Regions from separate parts of the Homo sapiens genome. Here region 2 is linked to region 1. The links come from fine-mapping of genetic effects on gene expression. A gene starts in region 1. The other region holds a variant in brackets. All regions are shown on one strand. Distances are between the middles of the regions. Region 1 holds the start of SERINC3 (serine incorporator 3). Region 2 has its middle 3.4 kb from the start of LINC01620.

The links. PIP is the estimated chance that this variant, and not a neighbour inherited with it, causes the effect.
Region 2: its variant is the best candidate, but not a certain one, in a credible set for the expression of SERINC3 in monocytes (Quach 2016, PIP 0.88).

The regions. Positions count from the first base shown.
Region 1 is chr20:44,520,283-44,524,680 of GRCh38, reverse strand. SERINC3 (serine incorporator 3) reads left to right here and starts at 2,611. Exons shown (of 10, transcript NM_006811.4): 1 at 2,611-2,768. The coding sequence starts at 2,730. RefSeq lists enhancers at 1-386, 2,419-2,713, 2,620-2,929, 2,848-3,400.
Region 2 is chr20:44,466,570-44,470,967 of GRCh38, reverse strand. It overlaps the pseudogene RPL37AP1. Among named protein-coding and RNA genes, the nearest start is that of LINC01620, 3.4 kb to the right of the region's middle. The variant T/C (reference allele first, on the strand shown) is at 2,587.

The sequences.
Region 1 (4,398 bases):
TTTCTGCCTGAGGCGGGAAATTGGAGTAGATGATCACAAAGATCTGCTGTCCTCGCTTTGGCCAAGTAGAAGTGACACACTCAACCAGTTAGGGCCAGAAACACTAAGAGATGGGGGGATCCTACATGTGGGAGGACAAATGCTTACAGGTAAGAAAATGAAAAACTGTTCAGCTGACAGCTAGACCTAATGTTTCTAACTGAACAAAAACAGTGATCACAGAATATAAACAAAGATCAGACAAGACCACCATGTAGTTGGATCAAGATACAGACAAAGCCACTCTGGTACCGCAGATAGGACTCAACATCTTCCAATTCTGACTAATAAATGAGTGGATTTTGCTTCTTTTTTTGTAACCGAGCGAATTATAGAGAAACGCCACACTCTGAGACGAATTCAGGAGTCCTTTATTAGCCGGCAACTGAGAGATGGCTAGTGCTTAAAATTCTCTCGGCCCCGAAGAAGGGGCTAGATTTTCTTTTATACTTTGGTTTAGAAAGGGGAGGGGGAGCCTAGCTGAGGCAATCTTACAGAAGTAAAACAGGCAAAAAAGTTAAAAAGACAAATGGTTACAGGAAAACAAATAGTTCCAGGTGCAGGGGCTTTAAATCCATCACAAGGTGATAGATGTGGGGGCTTTGGGTACCATCAACCGGACAAAAATGCAGGGGCTTAGGGTACTATCAACCGGGTGAATTCCTGGAAACTGCAGCTATCGCTTGCCACAGTATCTTATCAGTTAATTGCATTCTTTGATGTGCTGGGAGTCAGCTTGCACAAGTTAAATCCTTGAGGAAGTGGGATGGGTAAGGAGCGGCAAGTGAAGGAGCCAAAATGGAGTTTGTCTGTCTCCCTCAGCTAAGAGAGAGTCAATTCAGGTTAAGACAAGGTAGGGTATCACACTTTTCCAAGGACTAATCTAGCCTTGTTTTAATCCTTCTTCCTTCTGGATAAAAATTTGTAAGATACCTAATCACTGAATTGCCTCTACTCCTTGACTGTGTCCAATCCAAAACTGTTCTCCTCCTCCTTAAACTCTCCTTAGATTTAGTTACCCAGCATAAACCCAAATCCTAAAATAAGTTCTCCCCAGTCACCTCTTACCAAGACACCTTATATTTTCTCTGATATGTGTTCTCCCTTTCTGAACAAGCTAAATAAACCTAATTCTTTTTGACTACAGGTATGTTTCTGGTAGAATTCGATCTGTAAAATTTATCACAGTCAGCTCTCTTAAGTCCAGACCAGCAATACTCAGACAGGAAGAAGCAAGAATGTTAAGGACTACCTGGAAAGTTCAGTGGTCCTGAAGCAACTTGACTTGAGCTGGTATTTGTGTATGTGTGGTGAGGAGAGGGATCTGGGAAAAGAGAGGTAGGAATTATTAAATGTGAGTAGTTCTCTTTCTTCTTTCATCAGCCCTTTTCATGGCCTTGGGCAAACTTTGAGCCTCATTCCATTTCTGTAAAAGATGAATTTGGAATACATTTTCAAGGAATCCAGGAAATAACATCCCCAAATATGCCACACTGGTATGATGATTGCTTGGGGAACAGCACATGGAGAGAGGGGCTTTTCATGAATTTCCCTTATCAGACTAAAGGCTGACAATCCAGAAGGAATTCAATTATGAATCCCCTTCCAGAGAGTTTTATCTATCAGGGAAGATTAACACACCACAGGAGAAGATATTGAAGTGTGACACCTTGTTGTCCGGACATCATCATTGTTTGCCACATTCCACCTAAACTATTATATGTGTAAGTAAAAAATGTTTTCATTTTCTTCTTTAAGTGAACTCTCAAATTTGACATGTATTTTGAAAGGAATATTTACATCACTGCTTAAATGGGAAATCAGCATTGCTCGGAAGAAATGAAAAGGTTATTGCTAACACACACCTCAAAACAAAACAATATTTTAAAACTGCAGGCATGGTTGCCTGTTTGAGAGATCTGGAAAATGAAGGCTTTACTCTGTTAGAAAGGGAGATAAATACTAGAAAAATGTTAAATACCATACTGGCCTCAAACAACTAGCCTGTTGGTTTGAAATGGGACGTTCTCACTCTGCTGTTTAATATCGCTTAATGTCCTTCATGCACCCTTAGAGCCATTCATTTTTCCCAAATGGGGTGCATCCCACATTTTAGGATACGATTTCCATCGTTTCTAGGTTAATTTGGACTCATCCTTTAGTTCGCAGATTAAAAAATAAATCCTTCAGAGAAGCCTTCCAAGACTACTGCCCAGCTAAATTACTTTCCCCTTACAATAGGAGGCACTAAATACACCTTTATTGAAAGCCTATTCCCCCATACTACTTCATCGTATTCATTACATTGGGGCACGGTGCATTTATGTTGTCAGATCTCCTATTAACTAGAGAATAAATTCTGAGCGTACTGTGCCTCTCTGTACACTTCTGTAACTTCCAGATCTTTGCACAATGAATACAAATGATGTAAGGAATGACACCTTCACAGTTCCTGCAACCCCAGGATGGTTTAGCCCCACCTTCCCCCTCAGCCAATGACAGGCGCCCCCCTCTGCCGCTCCGGTCGCGGACGGTGGGCGGGGCCACGCCGTGACGCATCCGTGCGTCTGTGGAAGGCTGCGTTTCCGGCCTGAGAAACCGTCATGTTTCTGGGGAGTCACCTCAGCTGGCAGTTACCACCGTGTTAGAAAGCAGCCTCAGGACCGGCCACCTCCATCACTGGCGTCACCATGGGGGCTGTGCTGGGTGTCTTCTCCCTCGCCAGCTGGGTGAGTTCGGGGTCCCGAGTCCTCGCCGGACCTGCGGTTTGCGGGGAAAGGCCTCGAGACCAGAGCTGCACGGGCCTTGGCTCCAGAGGCTCTCGGGATGTCAGCAGGCCCTGGGCTACAGAGGGTCTCCGGGGCCCCAGACGCAAATCCGCGATACCCTCAGGTCCAGCTTAGGCGGCTCGCCCTCCGGGTTCCTCGGGGAACGGAAGAGGCTAGGCCGCCATTGTTTACAATTCGGATGGCTCCGCCCTGCGAGGCTTCCTGACTAGGTTCCTCTGGAGCTGGAGAGGGACCAAGGAATGACAGCTCCCAGCGAGGGGCTCCGGTTCCTCCCGAAGCACCTCTTAAGGTGCCATCATTTAGTTCTAGGTGGCTCAAGTAATATTTTTATCCCCTAGCACGGGATTTGCCAAAACTACAGAGTGTGTGGCAAAGCTGGGGTTTTAGCGGAGGCTTGTCTGCAGTTCAGGTGCAAGGGAAAGAAGCCCTTGTGGATTGTTATTCAAAATTGGAAACCAGGGCCTGAATATTTTGGGACTGCTGTAAGTCATTTATCCGAGGATAATCACCCCAGCATTCCTCTCTTCGAGAACGATTGTGACAGTGAAGTGAAGGTTTAATCACCTTGTAAACTGTAAACATTTTAAAGAGAAAATTATAGGGCCTATAAAAGAATATGCTGAGTTCCCTCATTTACCCACTTCAGAGGAGCGTGATTCCTTGATTCCTCATTCTCCAGCTGATTTAATTGACCAAGTGTGTAGAAAAAGCACACTCAGTTTCTCCTGCTGTACTCACAACACACTTTTGACACCTGATGTGTGGTGTGTGGGGATTTTCCCCCAAACATCAGGCAAACAGTCAGCTCTGCAGGGGATGCCAACTTGGTGCCCTACAAGTCAATTCCGAAGCTCTCTACTTGGAGATAGCATCAAATCACACAAGTGGAGGGCTCAGTCTCACAAGACTGTGCCCACTTTCTGTGCCAATGGCAAGCCTCAGGTTGTTTTACCTGTGCTTCTGACCGGCCACCTATAAATCAAAGTTCCCGTGACCTCCCTCCTTGGCTTTGATTAATTTGGTCACAAAACTCAAGGAAACATGTTTACTGGTTTATTATAAAAGTATTTTATTTTGTGTATTTATGTATTTTTAATTTTAGATTCAGAGGGTACATATGCAGTTTTGTTACATGGGTATATTGCCTTATCGTGAGGTTTGGGTTTCTAATGATTCCGTTGCCCAAACAGTGAACACAGTATCCAACAGGTAGTTTTTCAACCCCTATCCCCCCACCGTCCTTCCCCACTCTTGGACTCTCCAGTGTTTATTGTTGCCATCTTCGTGTCTGTGTTCCCAGTGTTTAGCTCCCACTTGTAAGCGAGAATATGCTGTATTTGGTTTTCTGTTTCTGTATTAATTCACTTGGGATAGTGGCCTCCAGCTGCATCTTTGTTGCTGCAAAGGACATGATTTTCTTCTTTTTTTATGGCTACTATTAATATATTTTTAAAGATACAGATGAAGTGATATGTAAGACAAGGTGTAGAGGGAACGGGTCTGGAGCTTCCATGCTCTGTCTGGGGCAGTGGCGCCATCTCGGCTCTCTTCAACCTCCAAGGGATTCTCA
Region 2 (4,398 bases), 54 kb after region 1:
ACTGACCAGTGGAAATAGGGAGGAAGATGAGGAGGGAGTGGTCCATATCAGGCATCTTCTCTGTACCTTGCATGAAAGCAGGTGACCTCACATGCATCTCTGCGCTGTCACTGGCTGTGTGATCTTGGGCAAATCACATTTCCCCTGGGGCTCAGTTTCCTCATTGGTGAAAATAATACCAGCTGGGGAATTCTGGAAAGATGGAGGCAATAATGCCTAGCATAGATTTGAATATCCCCAAATCCCCAAATAAAAATAGAAAAAAATTCATAAACACATTTACAACAAAACTAAGTGACAAGGCATCTTCATGAACTCCAAAAAACGTGTGGGGACAAATCACCAACAGCTACAAGGCCTGCATGCCATTGGCATCTCTGTGCAGTAGAAACAGAAGGGAAGCAGCAAGGTGTCTGGCGGGCCTGAGACATGGAGAGTGCTAAAATTGCAACATGTATTCACGTGTTGTTGGGAAAACAGCAGCTGAAACTGGAAAGCGTTTGCCAACTCCAGTAGTGGGCGAGTGTAAGGTGTTTGCCACACAACCTAAGGTTTAAAGGAGTTTTTAACCCCTGTGAATTACTGAGTCATTTTAACCAGTAATTATAGCATCTTTCCATTTTATCAGCCCCTGTATCCTTGAAAATGAAAGATTCCAAGTGTGGAAGAAAGGAACTACAGGTGTAATACAGAATAGATTCCATAAACATCCTATAAAACTCTATTTACATTGGATATATCAATGTGAACTCGAAACTATTTTTAAAGGAAATGTATATGCGTGTATTCATATATATAATACCTAGTTCTAGCTATTAAAAAGACTTAAACCATAATCAATCTTGTAGCAATGAGCATATCTTGCACCCAGATAATAGTTTTGATTAATACAAATAAAAAGACTTCTTGAAGAAATTACTCATTCCAGATCTGTAGCAGGAAATATACAAAATAAGCCTGGAATATCTTGTCACGCCAATTAACAAGGAAGCTATCGAAGGCTACCAGGGTCACACCAAAAGGACTTACAAGCCAGCCTGTGGATGAAACAATTTTAGCTGCAACAAAGACAATACTTGCAGTTGATTGAAACTTATCAAATATGTTTAGCCGGGAGTGGCGGCTCACGCCTGTAATGCCAGCACTTTGGGAGGCTGAGGCGGGCGGATCACCTGAGGTCCGGAGTTCGAGACCAGCCTGACCAACATGGAGAAACTCCGTCTCTACTAAAATACAAAAATTAGCCAGGTATGATGGTGGGTGCCTGTAATCCCAGCTACTGGGGAGGCTGAGACAGGAGAATCTGTTGAACACGGTAGACGGTGGTTGCAGTGAGCCAAGAAAGATCATGCCACTGCCTGGGCGGTTGAGCGAGACTCCATCTCAACAAAAAATAAATAAATAAAAATAAAAAGTGGACTCAACTAAACAATAACATCTAGGAATGCACACTCAGATGATTAAGTCATGAAGAAATGCAAGGAAGTAATTAATAGTCGGATTAGTGATTATTTTGGGGGGATGGGCTGTGATTGGTATGGAGTACCTGGTGAGGTGGGGAGGGGAACCCTGAGGTGGCTGAAAAAATTCTGTATTTTGACCGGGGTGGTGGTTACAGGGTGTTTGCCTTGATATAACTCACTAAGCTACAATTTTTTTTTTTTGAGATAGTGTCTCACTTTGTTGCCTGGGGTGGAGTACAGTAGTGTGATCTCAGCTCACTGTGGCCTCAGACCTCCCTAGACTCAAGTAATCCTCCTGCTTCAGCCTCCTGAGTAACTGGGGCTACAGGTACGTGCCAACCATGCCTGGCTAATTTATGTATTTTTCGTAGAGATGGCATTTCAGGTTTTGCCATGTTCCCCAGGTTGGTCTCAAACTCCTGAGCTCAAGTGATCTACTCACCTCGGCTTCTCAAAGTGGTGGGATTACAGGTGTAAGCCACTGCACCTGGCTGCTACAAATTTAATTTGTGTGGTTTTCTGCAACTGTTTTGCTCTATAATATAAAGGTTTTAAAAAATGAGGACAGCAACACTTACTTCACACTATGTGTGTGTGCATATGTGTGTTTACATGTACATATACATGTATCTAAATGTATGGTTTCTGTTAGCACCAGGTATGTAGGTAGATGCTCACTAAATATGACTTCCATGTGAATTTTGTTCAAAACACTGACCCGTGTGATTTCAGCACCATTACCGACATTACTAACTTGTGTGGCTAATTAAAAATAGTTCATGCTTCCCAACTGGGGCAGAGACTGGAAAAATAAAACAAAATAAAAAATCGTTAATGGTTATTAGGTGATACTATGTGCCAGGCACTGTTTCCAGTGCAACTAATCTAATTGAATCCTTATAACTGTATTATGATTATTCCCATTTTACAGAGAAGAAAACTGAGGCTTAGAGACTTTCCCTGTGGCCACACAGGAGGTGGCAGGGCAGCCTGTTTTGTTTTGTATTATTTTGTTTTGAGGCAGCGTCTCACTCTGTGGCCCAGGCTGGAGTGCAGTGGCACAATCTTGGCTCACTGCAACCTCTGCCTCCTGGGTTCAGGCTATTCTCTTGCCTCAGTCTCC[T/C]GAGTAGCTGGGATTACAGGGACATGCCACCACGCCCAGCTAATTTTATTTGCATTTTTAGTAGAGATGGGGTTTCGCCATATTGGCCAGGTTGGTCTCGAATTCCTGGCCTCAAGTGAGCCACCCGCCTTGGCCTCCCAAAGTGCTAGGATTACAGGCATGAGCCACCGCACCTGGCCAGTAGCCTGGTTTGGAACCCAGGCAGTCTGGCTTTCAGCTCTGCCCTCTCATCCACTGTAGCATATGTACCATACTGTTTTTTACTTGGTGTCTAGTGCCCCTGTTTGCAATAATAACTCCCCCTTATGGAGTGCCTGCTAATATGTGTGCCATTCTTTGACATTCACTACCCGAATCTCACATCAACCCTGGAAGGTGAAGGTACTTGTTAGTCTGCATTTGGTGGCTAGGAAAACTAGAACTCAGAGAGCTGAAAAACTTGCTCAAAGTAACAGAGTAAGTAAATGGCAGTAAGTGATGGAGGAGGAGTTTGAATTGGGGACGGGGAGGGTTCATACTCTGACCCTTGGGATTCTAAAGAACAAAGTGTCCTATACTCTTAAACAGATGCTCATCTGATGGGTCTGACCCAGTTTGAGGTCATGCGTTGCCCAACCAGTGGTCCGGAGCCTGGCTTGGCTTGAGAAGTGTCCAGACGCAGGCTGGGGGAAGTCAGAGGCTTCGCAAACACCAGACATGTTTGACCCCAATCAGAGGGTCGTGCAAAGCTTGTGACCCCGGGCCTGGGGTTCCCTAAGGAGCGAGAGACTCCTGTTTCTCCATGTGCCAGCCTTGTGCTCACAAGCTGCAGAATCAGGTCCTAGAACGAAGCTGGCCACCTCTCGGGACAGGGTAAAGAGATGCCCATGGGTTGGCTGTGCAGATTTCCCAGAAGTGGGAAGAACCTGGCTGTGTTTTTGTGGTCACACATTGATTTCCTAACCTGAGTCAGCATGGCTGCTTGGAGGTACAGTATGTCCTCTCTGTTCCCAGGGGCCCTGGATCCCAGCCTGGCTGAAGCATTTCCAAAACAGGGCCTGGAATAGTGAGGGAAACGGAAGGGGTGGAGATCCCAAATCCCCTCCGTCAGTACCAGCCACCCACCGTTGTATTAAAAACGCCCAGCATGGACTGAGTTCTTACCAGGTGCCAGGTCCCGTGCTAAGCATGTCATATGTATTCACTTAACTAACCTTACAGAGATGCAATGGAGTAGAGGCTCTTCCATTTAACAAAGGAGTAAACAGACTCAGAGAAGCCACATCACTTGTAAATGGTCCCACGGAGATGGAATTTGCAGGTCTGTGATTGTGGAATTCTGGAGTGTTAGCTCCGCAAATTCACTACTTCACTCAGCCCTCACCACAAACCCCCACCCAGTAAGGTGCTGCCACCCGCAGTAAGGATATGAAAAAACTGAGGCTGGGGGTGGTGGACATGACTTGTAAGATGTTTCTAGAAAGCTCTGCTGTGACAACCAGTAACTGTTTTTTAAAAGCCCAGTCCAACTCTCTGGGCTCGGACCTAGTTCGCGGTGACATGGCCAAACCTACCAAGAAAGTCGGGATCGTCGGTAAATACGGGACCCGCTATGGGGCCTCCCTCTGGAAAATGGTGAAGAAAGTTGAAATCAGCCAGCAGGCCAAGTACACTTGCTCTTTCTGTGGCAAAACCAAGATGAAGAGATGAGCTGCGGGGATCTGGCACTGTGGTTCCCGCGTGAAGACAGTGGCTGGCGGTGCCTGGACATACAATACCACCTCCGCTATCACGGTAAAGTCCGCCATCAGAAGCCTGAAGGAGTTGAAAGAC